3 linked regions of the Homo sapiens genome follow. The protein of the gene in region 1 interacts with the protein of each later gene in a pairwise test. Each region holds a gene or a part of one and is shown on either strand. Other genes may lie near its edges.

Region 1 (3,752 bases):
TACTTTAAACTCCTAAAGCACTTAATAACATAATGGTTTTAGCACATATTACATGTATGTGTGTTTACCTAATTTACCTTAAATATATTTATTAAATACCTCTTACCATATTAAATATATATTTAATATATATTAAATATATTTCCATATAACATAAGTATATATTTCATATATTTATATTAAAGTAGGCAAACATATTTGGATAATTAAATATTTTTATATAATTTCGTATATTTTTTTGAGACAGAGTCTTGTTCTGTTGCCCAGGCTGGAGTGCAATGGCACGATCTTGGCTCACTGCAACCACCATCTCCTGGGTTCAAGCGATCTTCCCACCTTATCCTCCTGAGTACCTGGGGCTACAGGCATGTGCCACCACGCCTGGCTAATTTTTGTATTTTCTTAGTAGAGATGGGGTTTTGCCATGTTGTTCCGGCTGGTCACAAACTCCAGGGCTCAAGCAATCCACTCACTTCAGCTTCCCAAAGTGCTGGGATTACAGGCATGAGCCACAACACCCAGCCCTTTATATAATTTTAAAAGTGTAGGTAATTAGGTAAAATTAGGTTAAAAGTATATGTATATTTACCTGATATTTAAATATTACCTAAGTGTTTAATGTGGACATGTAAGCTCTTTAAAGATAGTGCTTATGTATTTTATATCTGTTTCACATACTCCTTATATATCCCCCACAGAAATGGTCACAAATAGGTTCCTTAATAAGTATTTTTGAATTCAGCCATGCTATATATTCATTAGTAAGTGAGTTTTCTTTTATTATGAACTACAAACTTTAACCTTTTTTTGAGTAGTGAGCAGTTATTCATTTACCTTCACACTCTTTAAATACCAAATTTTGAGTGAGTGAGTGTGTAAGGTTTTGTCATACAGACTTGCAATTCCTATATGGGATAAAGTAGACTAGCACAGGAATTTTTCTTGTATCACTCATGCAAGACTCTAAATTCCTTAAAGGCAGGGATCATGTATATTTTGATCACTGTTGTATCCTCAGCACTTCACATGGTGCCTGTCACATAAATATTTGTTAAATGACTTCTCCAAGCAATAGCTTTGTCTTTATGTTATCCTGTATTTCAAAACGTTCATATATAAATTCTCTCAACTATGACTTGTTTCATAGGGTCTAATAATTGTTCCTCTGCTGAGTTATTCTCAGCAGATTTAGATTCATTTAGCAAATGTTTATTGAGCACTAACTATATACCAGGCCCTGTTCTGGGCATTCAGGATATAGCAGCAAACACAATAATTTAAAATCCCTGTCCAGTGAAGTGTATATTCTTGTAGGCTCTGTAAAAAGATGCCCTGTGCATTGTCATGGTTGTTTCTCAGTCCCTGACTCTTCTTCCGTGACTAGATGTTTTTCTTACTCATGTGATCAGTTGCTAATTCAGACGTGGCTGTCATGCCTGTGTTATTAAGTAACGCCATGTTTCCCAATCAAAACCAGTCTCTATTAAGCAACTCCAAATATTCCAAAAGCATTCTTTAAGGAAGAAACAACCGGATTGCAAAATAGTTTTTTCTGAAATTTCAAGAAGTGAAAAGTTTGATCAGAATTTATTATGTCAAATGGAGAGTTTGTGTTTATTATTAAAATATGCCTTATATTTTAATATGGTCTAGCTTGTGTCTATCTGGCTATTTCTCTAAGTGTTTAGTTAACTGTTATAAGAAGATAACAACATTACAAATGTCCTTGGGGGTGAAAAAACTTGCCAGAAAATACTAAAAAGCTTAATTTACTTGCGTTTTTTTTTGTAGTACTTATTGTATTTTAGTTACAACTTTCCTATGTCTATTGAAATATAAATCCTGATAGCTTTAACTTCATAGTAGTCTCTACTATGTGGAGAATCTTAGAAATGTTAGCAGTCATCATTGAAGTATAGCTTAAGACTGTGTTTGGTTAATTGAATTTTCTGGTTATCTGAGTTTGTTTTACATGGGTTATCATTATCGTTTTTCAAAATATAAGAGAATATGATTCAGACCATTAGAAGATTATGAAGATAATAATTATTAACATGTAATAATTATTATAATTTATCATGTGCAGGCATTGTTGCTCACTTTACAGGCAATCTCATGTACATACAACTTTATGACATAGTTACTGTTATTATCCCCAATTATAGATGAAGAAACTAGGTTTTAAATAGGTTACATGACTTGACCAATGTCACATAACTTGTACAGGTGATATCTGAACCAAAGAGTCTGAGGCCAGAACCTGCACTTCTAACCACCTTACTATATAGCCTCAAAAATTCAGACATCATCTGATCAGCATCATCAGTTAATTAGTATATGCAATGTTAGCCTTAAAATAAAAATGATGATTTAAGATTCATGGTTGTTGCAGTGCTGCTCATTTTGGTTTGCCTTAATACTTTCGGTAAAATACTTCCAGGGACTAATTAATGTTTTCCTTTTTTCCTCTTTGACAGCATTGGATTCAAAGGCTAACAATTTGTCCAGTCTGTCCAAGAAATACCGCCAGGATGCGAAGTACTTGAACATGCGTTCCACTTATGCCAAACTTGCAGCAGTAGCTGTATTTTTCATCATGTTAATAGTGTATGTCCGATTCTGGTGGCTGTGAAATAATGAATACAGTCACTGGTAAGGGAGAACCTAGAACCCAGTAGGTGTATATTTTCAGGAAACTGAGCTCACAGAGATGTGTATTAGAATCCAAGTGGAACTTCTGCCTCTAAAGACCTTGCAAGAAAAGAGATGCCCTGAAAATGAAAGGTTGCACCTCATTTAATGAAGCTTAACCCTATGTAGAAAGTCTCTTTCGGGGGCAGAGGCTTTCTCTGGGTGCCAAGCCATATATATTAGGGAATAGTAGATTGTTAATTTCGTTTTTTCCCTCCCAGTGCATTTTAAAAACAGCACTGGCTGGGGCATTCTCATTCTCTGATGGAGCCATCAATGAGATTTAACTTAGTCAACCTGTGCTAGCAACATTCTGAAATTCCTTCAAAGAAGGCAGTCCTTTGGGAAGGTGTTTTTTTTTTTTTTTTTTTTTTTGACTCTAATCAACATTCCTTTTGTTGGTGACATTTGTGATTTTCAGTAATCTGAGTTTTTGATGGCCTTTTAAACAAGACTCCAGTATGTGAAGGTTAATTGCTGTGCTCCACAGATCTTGTCTATTGGCCCCTGTAGAAAGTTAACCTTTGTTGTTTTCCTTTTATAATTTGCTTATTGCACAATTGCTTTAGGGTAAGTGAATTATATTAAGATGCCTTGAAATTATAGCACTCCTTGATTAAGAAGCTAAAATGTTTCTCTCATTTACTCCTTAAACAAAAGACTTAAATTAGTTTGGGTCATTATTACTTTTATTTTGCAGCATTTGGTTTGTTATTAGCGTAAGAGCAAGTATAGGATATGGAGAGGCCCCTGGCTTCATGAGAACAAAGGCAGGCCCAGGTTATAATTACAGCTTTCTCCTGCCCCTTCTTTACTTTCTCTACCACAGTTTTCTCCACTGTTTGTTTTCCTCTTGCCACAATTTGCTAACATTTAAAAAATTTTCCTGCACCCAGTAGTTTCATATCCTGTAGACATCCTCTTAGGACATTCTCAAATTTCAAAATAAAAAATATTCATCTATGTAGTTAATTAAAGTTAAAGTTTTTGCAGATCAACTACTCAAACTACTAAATACATTTACCTGAGAAAAAGTCTCTGAGAGCACTTCATTCCTGTTT
Region 2 (3,752 bases), on another chromosome or scaffold:
TTACAGGCTGGGGTATGTACAGGTATGGGCAGGAGGGTTTTGGGCAGTATGGCTTGCTGCCCTGGAGGATATTGATAAGATGTTCTTATGTTCAGGTGGTTTGGCCAGGGATATTCCTTGGGCTCTGTCAGGATTTGATAGGGATATTTCTTCAGTTGGGTCTTTGCTTGGCAGGGTATGATAAAGATGTTCCTGTGTCTTGTGGTCAGGTGGCTAGGCAGGATTTCTCAGGGCCCGAACCCCCATGGAATGTTTCACTTTGACAAAGGCCTGTGAAATGGCAGGGGGCTTACAAAATGGTGTAGTTTGGACTAACATTAAGGTCTGTTTCAATGTTAATGCTGGTCAGTTATGCCTGAATTCCAAAGGGCGGAGGATATAATGAGGCACATCTGACACCTTTTCCCCATCATGGCCTGAACTCGTTTTTTAGGTTAACTTTGGAATGCCCTTGGCTGAGAGGAGGACTCCATTTAGATGGTTGGGGGGCTTAGAATTTTATTTTTGGTTTACAAAGGAGAGAGAGAGTGTGTAAGAGGGAGACAGAGAGAGGAAGACACAACTGTTTAGCTGGCATTAGGAACCAGAATTTGCTCCTTTTGCAAGTCTGATGTTCATGGAGTCGGGACACCATGTGCCATGGTTGAAGCAGCTTAGGTTTTGAAGACAGACAGAGCTGTATCTGTTGGTCTAGCCACTTCCCAGCTGGGTGTCCCCGTTCAGGATACACTGCCCTTCAATGTTACCATCAAAGAGGGTTTAATGGGACGCTGGGGAGGAAATCCCACCATAGTTCCTGGCCCCATGTAGGCGCTCAGCACTGTCAGTTCCCATCCTAAGGTCCTTCTTCGAAGAGAGAAGTTTCTGCTGCATGGAGAGGTAGAGACAGGGTGAAGGTACCCAGCTGTGGCTGGGTGGGCATCACAGGGGGTAAGGGGCAGAGAAAGCTTCCCCTTCACCCTCTGAAGGTTCACTGAACGTCAACTGACAAAAGGCAGATTAACAGGAGAAAGGCTGTGACAATTTATTTTAATATGCACAGCATGAGAGAATGGTTGCCCAATAATCCAAAGGGGTACAGCAGTTTGTATACCATTCTTCACAGGGGAGGGAGGAAATGGGGAATGCAGACAATTCTTTTGAGTGGTAGTAAACAATTATTAGGGAGAATGAATGGACTGGGAGACAAAGTAACTTGTCAATGATTCTCTGGAATTTGATTGGCCAGAGGGGTAGGCTTAATCTGGTGGGAAAGTTCGTCCAGGTGTGTGCATTCCTCGGTCTTCTTTTCCACATGAGATAATGAGGTCTGAGGGAGGAGACGGCAGGCAATTGTGTTTGTCTTAGGGGGTCTGGTTTCTAGGTAGATAAGGGAGTTTCAGAGGACTGCCCAGCTGCATCCTGTGCCTTGGTAGAGACCACAGGTTGAGACAGGAGGCAGTGGAGAGGTCACAAAGACCTTGAGGCAGCTTCTTTAGTTCAGTCATATTTTGAGGTGTAATATTCTGATTTCCTTCGGTGGGGGGCGGGGGGGGGGCGGTTAACAGAAATACCAAACTCTGTGAAATCTTTTAAAGAGGTTTATTCTGAGCCAATATGAGTGACCATGGCTCGGAGAAAACACAAACCCAAGAAGCCTTCAGTGGGTGGTCCCAAGGCAATTGGGTTACAGTTTGGTTTTATACATTTTAAGGAGGCAGGAATTATAGGCAAAGACATAAATCAATACATGGAAGGTATCTATTGGTTCGGCCCCAAAAGGTGGGATATCTTAAAGCCAGGGGGCTTACAGATTATAAGTGGACTCAGAGATTCTCAGATTTGCAGTTGTTAAAGGAGTAAAGCTTTGTTTAAAGACTTGAATTCAGCACAAAGAAATGCTTACATTAAGAGAAGGGGTGGCCAGGTGTGGTGGTTCATGCCTTTAATCAAGCACTTTGGGTGACCAAGGTGGGTAGATCACTTAAGCCCAGGAGTTCAAGACCAGCCTGGGCAACATGATGAAATGCTGTCTCTATTAAAAATACAAAAAATTAGCTGAGTGTTGTGGCACTCACCTGTAATCCCAGCCACTTGGGAGGCTGAGGTGTGAGAATTGCTTGAGTCCATGGGTTGCAGTGAGCCGAGATCATGCCACTGCACTCCAGACTGGGTGAGAGTGAGACCCTATCTCAAAAAAAAAAAAAAAAAGATAAAGAGGTCATGTGATGCTATACCAGAGTCAGTTGGAAAGTAAGCCACATACTGGGTTAATTTAAAAGAACTGGCCTAATGAGATTTGATGGTTTGTAGGGCGTGACTTAACCCTTGCCTTGTAAGGCCTTAGGTCTTGTCTACAATTTGATGTCTTCTTGCTGCAGCCGGCTTTGTTAGTCTTATGATCCCCATTTTAACCTTAATCCTGGGCAGTTGTGCCTAAACTCCAAAAGGGAGGGGGCACAACCAGGTGTGTCCTACCTCCCTTCCCCTCACGGCAGGGAATTCAGTTTTTCAGGTCTCTCTGGGGTTCCCTCGGCCAAGAGTGGGTCTGTTCAGTTGTTTGGGGGTTAGGATTTCATTTTTGGTTTCTCCTCAGCACATGTGTATCTCTGGAGAAAGCTAGGGAAAGAGGAAAGACAGGCAAAGCAAAAGGAGATTATTATCTAGAGGTTTTAATCAACTCATAAGGGAAATAAAGTTGAAACTCTACAGAAAAGGAGGTGAAATAGCACCCCACTGTCATCATATATTCATCATATATACGTATATATATTTTCAGACCTACTGCTCTGTCGCCCGGGCTGGAGTGCAGTGGTGTGATCTCAGCTCAACTGCAGCCTCTGCCTCCCAAGGTCAAGCAATTCTCCTGCCTCAGCCTCCCGAGTAGCTGGGACTACAGGTGCGCCACCATGCCCGGCTAATTTTTGTTGTTGTTCTTTTTGTTTTTTTGAGAGGGAGTCTCACTCTGTGGCCCAGGCTGGAGTGCAGTGGTGTGATCTCGGCTCACTGCAACCTCTGCCTCCCAGGTTCAAGTGATTCTCCCGGCTCAGCCTCCTGAGTATCTGGGACTACAGGCACACGACACTGCACCTGGCTAATTTTTGTATTTTTAGTAGAGATGGGGTTTCACCGTGTGGGCCAGGCTGGTCTTGATCACCTGACCTCAAGTGATCCACCCGCCTCAACCTCCCAAAGTGCTGGGATTACAGGCACGAACTACCGCACCTGGCCCCACTCTCATCATATTATTCCAAAAATAGCCATGGTCTCTCTGAGGCCCCTCACCTGAGAGAACAGAAGGGCTTCTATCCCTTGGGGCTGGAGGTGAGCCCAGCTGAATCCTCTTTCTTGGGGCTGGACTGGGAGTAGGTGGGATATCTCAGTACCTCTTCCATTTACTGAAGCTCATTCCTCACACTTGCTAGTGTCACAAACAGATGCCCATTGGGTGCAATTAACGTAAGAAAAGATAGCACTTTTAAGGCTTGCTTACTCCCAGCCTCATTTTGAAGCTCTAGGCTCCTGTGCATTACTAATTCATAAGTCTAGGAGCACATACCTTTCATTATTTCCATTTTATAGGTGGAAACAAGAAGACTTGCCAAGTATTTTCTGCAAGGCTGTGAAGCATGTTAGAAGCAATGGTAATAGCAGGTGCAGAGTGGCCAAGTCCTCATTTCCCCCTCAATGGACAAATCCCTTTAGCTGAGCCCATGAGTCATTGGCCTTTCCAGATTGATGCTGCCCTGGAGGGATGGAGCCCAGGGTTGGAG
Region 3 (3,752 bases), on another chromosome or scaffold:
TCACCATGTTGCCCAAGCTGGTCACAAGCCCCTGAGCTCAGGTGATCCGCCCGCCTTGGCCTCCCAAAGTGCTAGGATTACAGGCGTGAGCCACTGTGCCCAGCCAGAATTTCCTTCCTTTTAAAGGCGGAATCATATTCCATTGTATATATCACCATATTTTGTTTATCCATTCATCCATTGATGGACACCTGGGTTGCTTCTACCTTTTGGCTACTCAAAATAAGGCTGCTATGAACACGGGTGTACAAAGGTCTGTCTGAGTCCCTGCTCTCAACTCTTTCAAGTACATATGCAGAAGTGGAAATACTGGATCATATGGTAATTCTATGGTTAACTTTCTGAGGAACCACTGTGCTGTTTTCCACAGTGGCCACACCATTTTACATTCCCCATCAGCAATGTACAAGGGTTCCAATTTCTCCACATCCACCCCAAACACTTGTTATTTTCTGTTTTGTTTTTATAATGGCCATCCTAATGGGTGTGAGGTGGTTCTCTCATTGTGGTCACATTTGTCTTTGCTCCATTAAATGGGGTTTTGGTGTTTGGTTTCAGTGCTGAGGGGAAACCAATGGATTGACACAGGAAAGAGTCCTCCCCAGTCCTTCTGGCTCCTTTCCCCTCCCCTCTTTTAAACCCCACCAGTCTTCAACGCCCGGCTCCCATGCTGCTTCTCTCTACTTTCTCCTCACCCTCCACCAGCGACTGTCTGCACCACTTACCTGGCCCATTATCAGGTGCCACCCCAATGGCTTTTTGAGGTATGTGCTCTCATGATCCAACTAGCATGTGAACTCCTTGAGGATAGTGACTGTTGCACAGGCCAGTGCTTTGTGGCCTTGACGCAGGCCCGTCCTGGGCAGGCCCTCTCTAAATGACATGTCCTGTTCATGTGGAGGGAGGTGTGGGACTGCATCAAGAATGGGAAGGTAGGGCTTGAGAACATAAATCCCAGCTCTGCCAGCTGCTAATGGCTTCACATCTCTGTCGATCCCCTCTCCAAGGTGGGAGAAAAGACAGAGGTTAAGGAAATGGCATCTGTAGTATGCACACCTGTCTGGGAATTCCAGCCTCACATTTCAGCTGAAGCAGGCCTGGTCACATTAATACCTACCCAGCCTTGTGCATTGCTCTGTGGTCTTCCAAGCACTTCGTTCGCATTTTGTCATGGTTCTTACATAATTAAAATTCAGGCTGGGCGCAGTGGCTCACACCTGTAATCCCAGAACTGTGAGAGGCTGAGGCGGGTGGATCACCTGAGGTCAGGAGTTTGAGAACAACCTGGCCGACATGGTGAAACCCTGTCTCTACTAAAAATACAAAAATTAGCTGGGTGTGGTGGCATGCACCTGTAGTCTCAGCTACTTGGGAGGCTGAGGCAGAAAAATTGCTTGAACCCAGGAGGCGGAGGTTGCAGTGAGCCAAGATCATGCCACTGCACTCCAGCCTGGGCAACAGAGCAAGACTTCCTCTCCAAAAAATATATTTATAAATAAAATAAAAAAGATTCATGTGAAGGTCAGAAAATTTTACTCCCATTTTTTTGCAGTGAGACAGAGCTCAGAGAGGGGACATTATTTACCCCATATCCCAGGGCCAGTAAATGGAAGAGCTGAGATTAGAACCAATATCTCTTGCTTTCTACTGCAGAACTCATCCCCTGCACATGACTGCCCATCTCTTAGACATACGTACCAAATGTCTCTCCCCTGCTCAAAAATGCTCGATAGTGGCTGGGCACAGTGGCTCACGCCTGTAATCCCAGCACTTTGGGAGGCGGAGATGGGCAGATCACCTGAGGTCAGGAGTTCAAGACCAGCCTGACCAAAATGATGAAACCCTGTCTCTACTAAAAATACAAAAAAACAATGGATGGGTAGGTATTAATGTGACCAGGCCTGCTTCAGCTGAAATGTGGTGGCATGCGCCTATAATCCCAGCTACTTAGGAGGCTGAGACAGGAGAACCGCTTGAACCTGGGAGGTGGAGGTTGCAGTGAGTCGCGATCGCACCATTGCACTCCAGCCTGGACAACAAGAGCGAAACTCCATCTCAAAAAAAAAAAAAAAATGTTCGATATCTCCTTATTTCCTAATGAAACACAACAGCATCCTTGGCCTGCCATTCAAGATTCTTCATGACCTTGCCCCGATTGACATCTTCAGCCTTTTCCTCACAATCCAGCTCTTCCTGTCTTTCATCTCCATGCCTTTGCAGGTCCTATTCATTCTGTTAGGCGTGCCTTTCTCCTCTCACTTCCATGAGTATAAACCAGCTTGCAGGTTACCTTCAGAACAAAATCTCTTTCATTCCCCCAGGTCCCAAGGCTTCTCTTCCTCTTCTGAATTTCTACAGCACTTACTCTGTCTCACTCCCTTTGCTACAGGTTATTTTCAATATTATATTGAGAATTTCTGTCCCCGGCCAGACCTCTTTCCTGTGTGCTACACCTATAGCTCCTGCCCTTCCCTAGACAGCTCCCCCTAATGTCCCACAGGCATCCCAAACTCCTTTCCTAAATCAAACCCATGGGCAGGTGTGGTGGCTTATGCCTGTAATCCTAGCACTTTGGGAGGCAGAGGCAGAAGGATCGCTCGAGCCCAGAACTCTTGAATTCAAGACTAGCCTAGACAATGCAGTGAGACTCTGTCTCTAAAAAATAAATAAATAAAATCAAACCCATTATCTTTTCCCCAAAACCTGTTTCTCTCCTAAGACCCCCACCCCAATTAATGGCACCACCATGCACCCAGTTAGAACCAGCGGTCTCAAAGTCTGTCTGGCTTCCTCTGCCACATCCCCACCCTAACATGAGTTCCTGAGAGTGAGGGCCTTGCCTGCCTGGTTCAGCATAGTATTCCCAGTGCCTGGCACAAAGCCCAGCACATAGTAAGCATTCAAGAGAAGAATAAAGACATTTCTTAGTTAGCAATCGCCATATAACAAATCATCTCAAAAACCCTGGCCTAAAACAACTACCGTCTACTATTACAGCTCACATGTCTGTGGTTGGCAGACGGCTGGGGCAGCGTAGCTCCACTCCACCTGTCTCTCATCCTCCTCCGGGGCCCAGTGGACTTGCCTGGGCATATTCTTCTCATGGCAAGGGCAGAGGCACAAAGCTGAGCAAGGCTAGCTGTACAAGTGTGGTTCAAGACCCTGGCTAAGCCATGCCCACCATCATCCCACTGGCCAAGGGAAAGCCACCAAGTCAGCTACTAACTCCCACCCTTACCACCTCTTAAATATCTTTGGGATCCATCCCCTCCTCTTCATTACTCTTCTCATTGCTGCCACTGCTCTGGTTCACGCCCTCATCATGTCTCACCTGGATGACTCCAAAGGTCTCCCAGCTTTGCCTTCTTCCTTCTAATTCACTCATCACAGGATGAAAGAGTGTGTAGAAAAAACGCAACCTTTCTAAAATGCAAATCCGATGTTTCTCACCACTTGAAGCCCATGAGTGGATCTTCAACATCTACAGAGTAAATAAAGCTCAAACCCCTGGGGACGGCTGGCAAAGCCCTTCACAACTCGTCCCTGCCTCCAATCCTGTCCTCCAGATCTCTACCTTGCTGTTTTTGCTACCTGGGCCCCACCCAGGGCCGGTGAACCCTCCTTTAAGACCCAGCTCCTCCTCTGTGAGGACTTTCCTAAGCACCCTGACTCCAGAGTTGTCTTCCCACTTCTGCACCCTCCCTTCTCTGTGGTAATAGTGAGCACTCTGCTTCACTGGATTCATCTGAACG

Evidence for each region.
Region 2: the proteins of SEC22B (region 1) and MGST2 interact in binary tests that used the Homo sapiens proteins (3 or more experiments, as listed by UniProt).
Region 3: the proteins of SEC22B (region 1) and TMEM229B interact in binary tests that used the Homo sapiens proteins (3 or more experiments, as listed by UniProt).

Annotation. Positions count from the first base shown.
Region 1 is NC_000001.11:120,155,918-120,159,669, reverse strand, and holds part of SEC22B (vesicle-trafficking protein SEC22b), read left to right. Parts: intron 1-2,477; coding exon 2,478-2,632; 3' UTR 2,633-3,752. UniProt on the Homo sapiens protein: SNARE involved in targeting and fusion of ER-derived transport vesicles with the Golgi complex as well as Golgi-derived retrograde transport vesicles with the ER.
Region 2 is NC_000004.12:139,668,732-139,672,483, forward strand, and holds part of MGST2 (microsomal glutathione S-transferase 2), read left to right. Parts: intron 1-3,752. UniProt on the Homo sapiens protein: Catalyzes several different glutathione-dependent reactions. Catalyzes the glutathione-dependent reduction of lipid hydroperoxides, such as 5-HPETE.
Region 3 is NC_000014.9:67,475,110-67,478,861, forward strand, and holds part of TMEM229B (transmembrane protein 229B), read right to left. Parts: intron 1-3,752.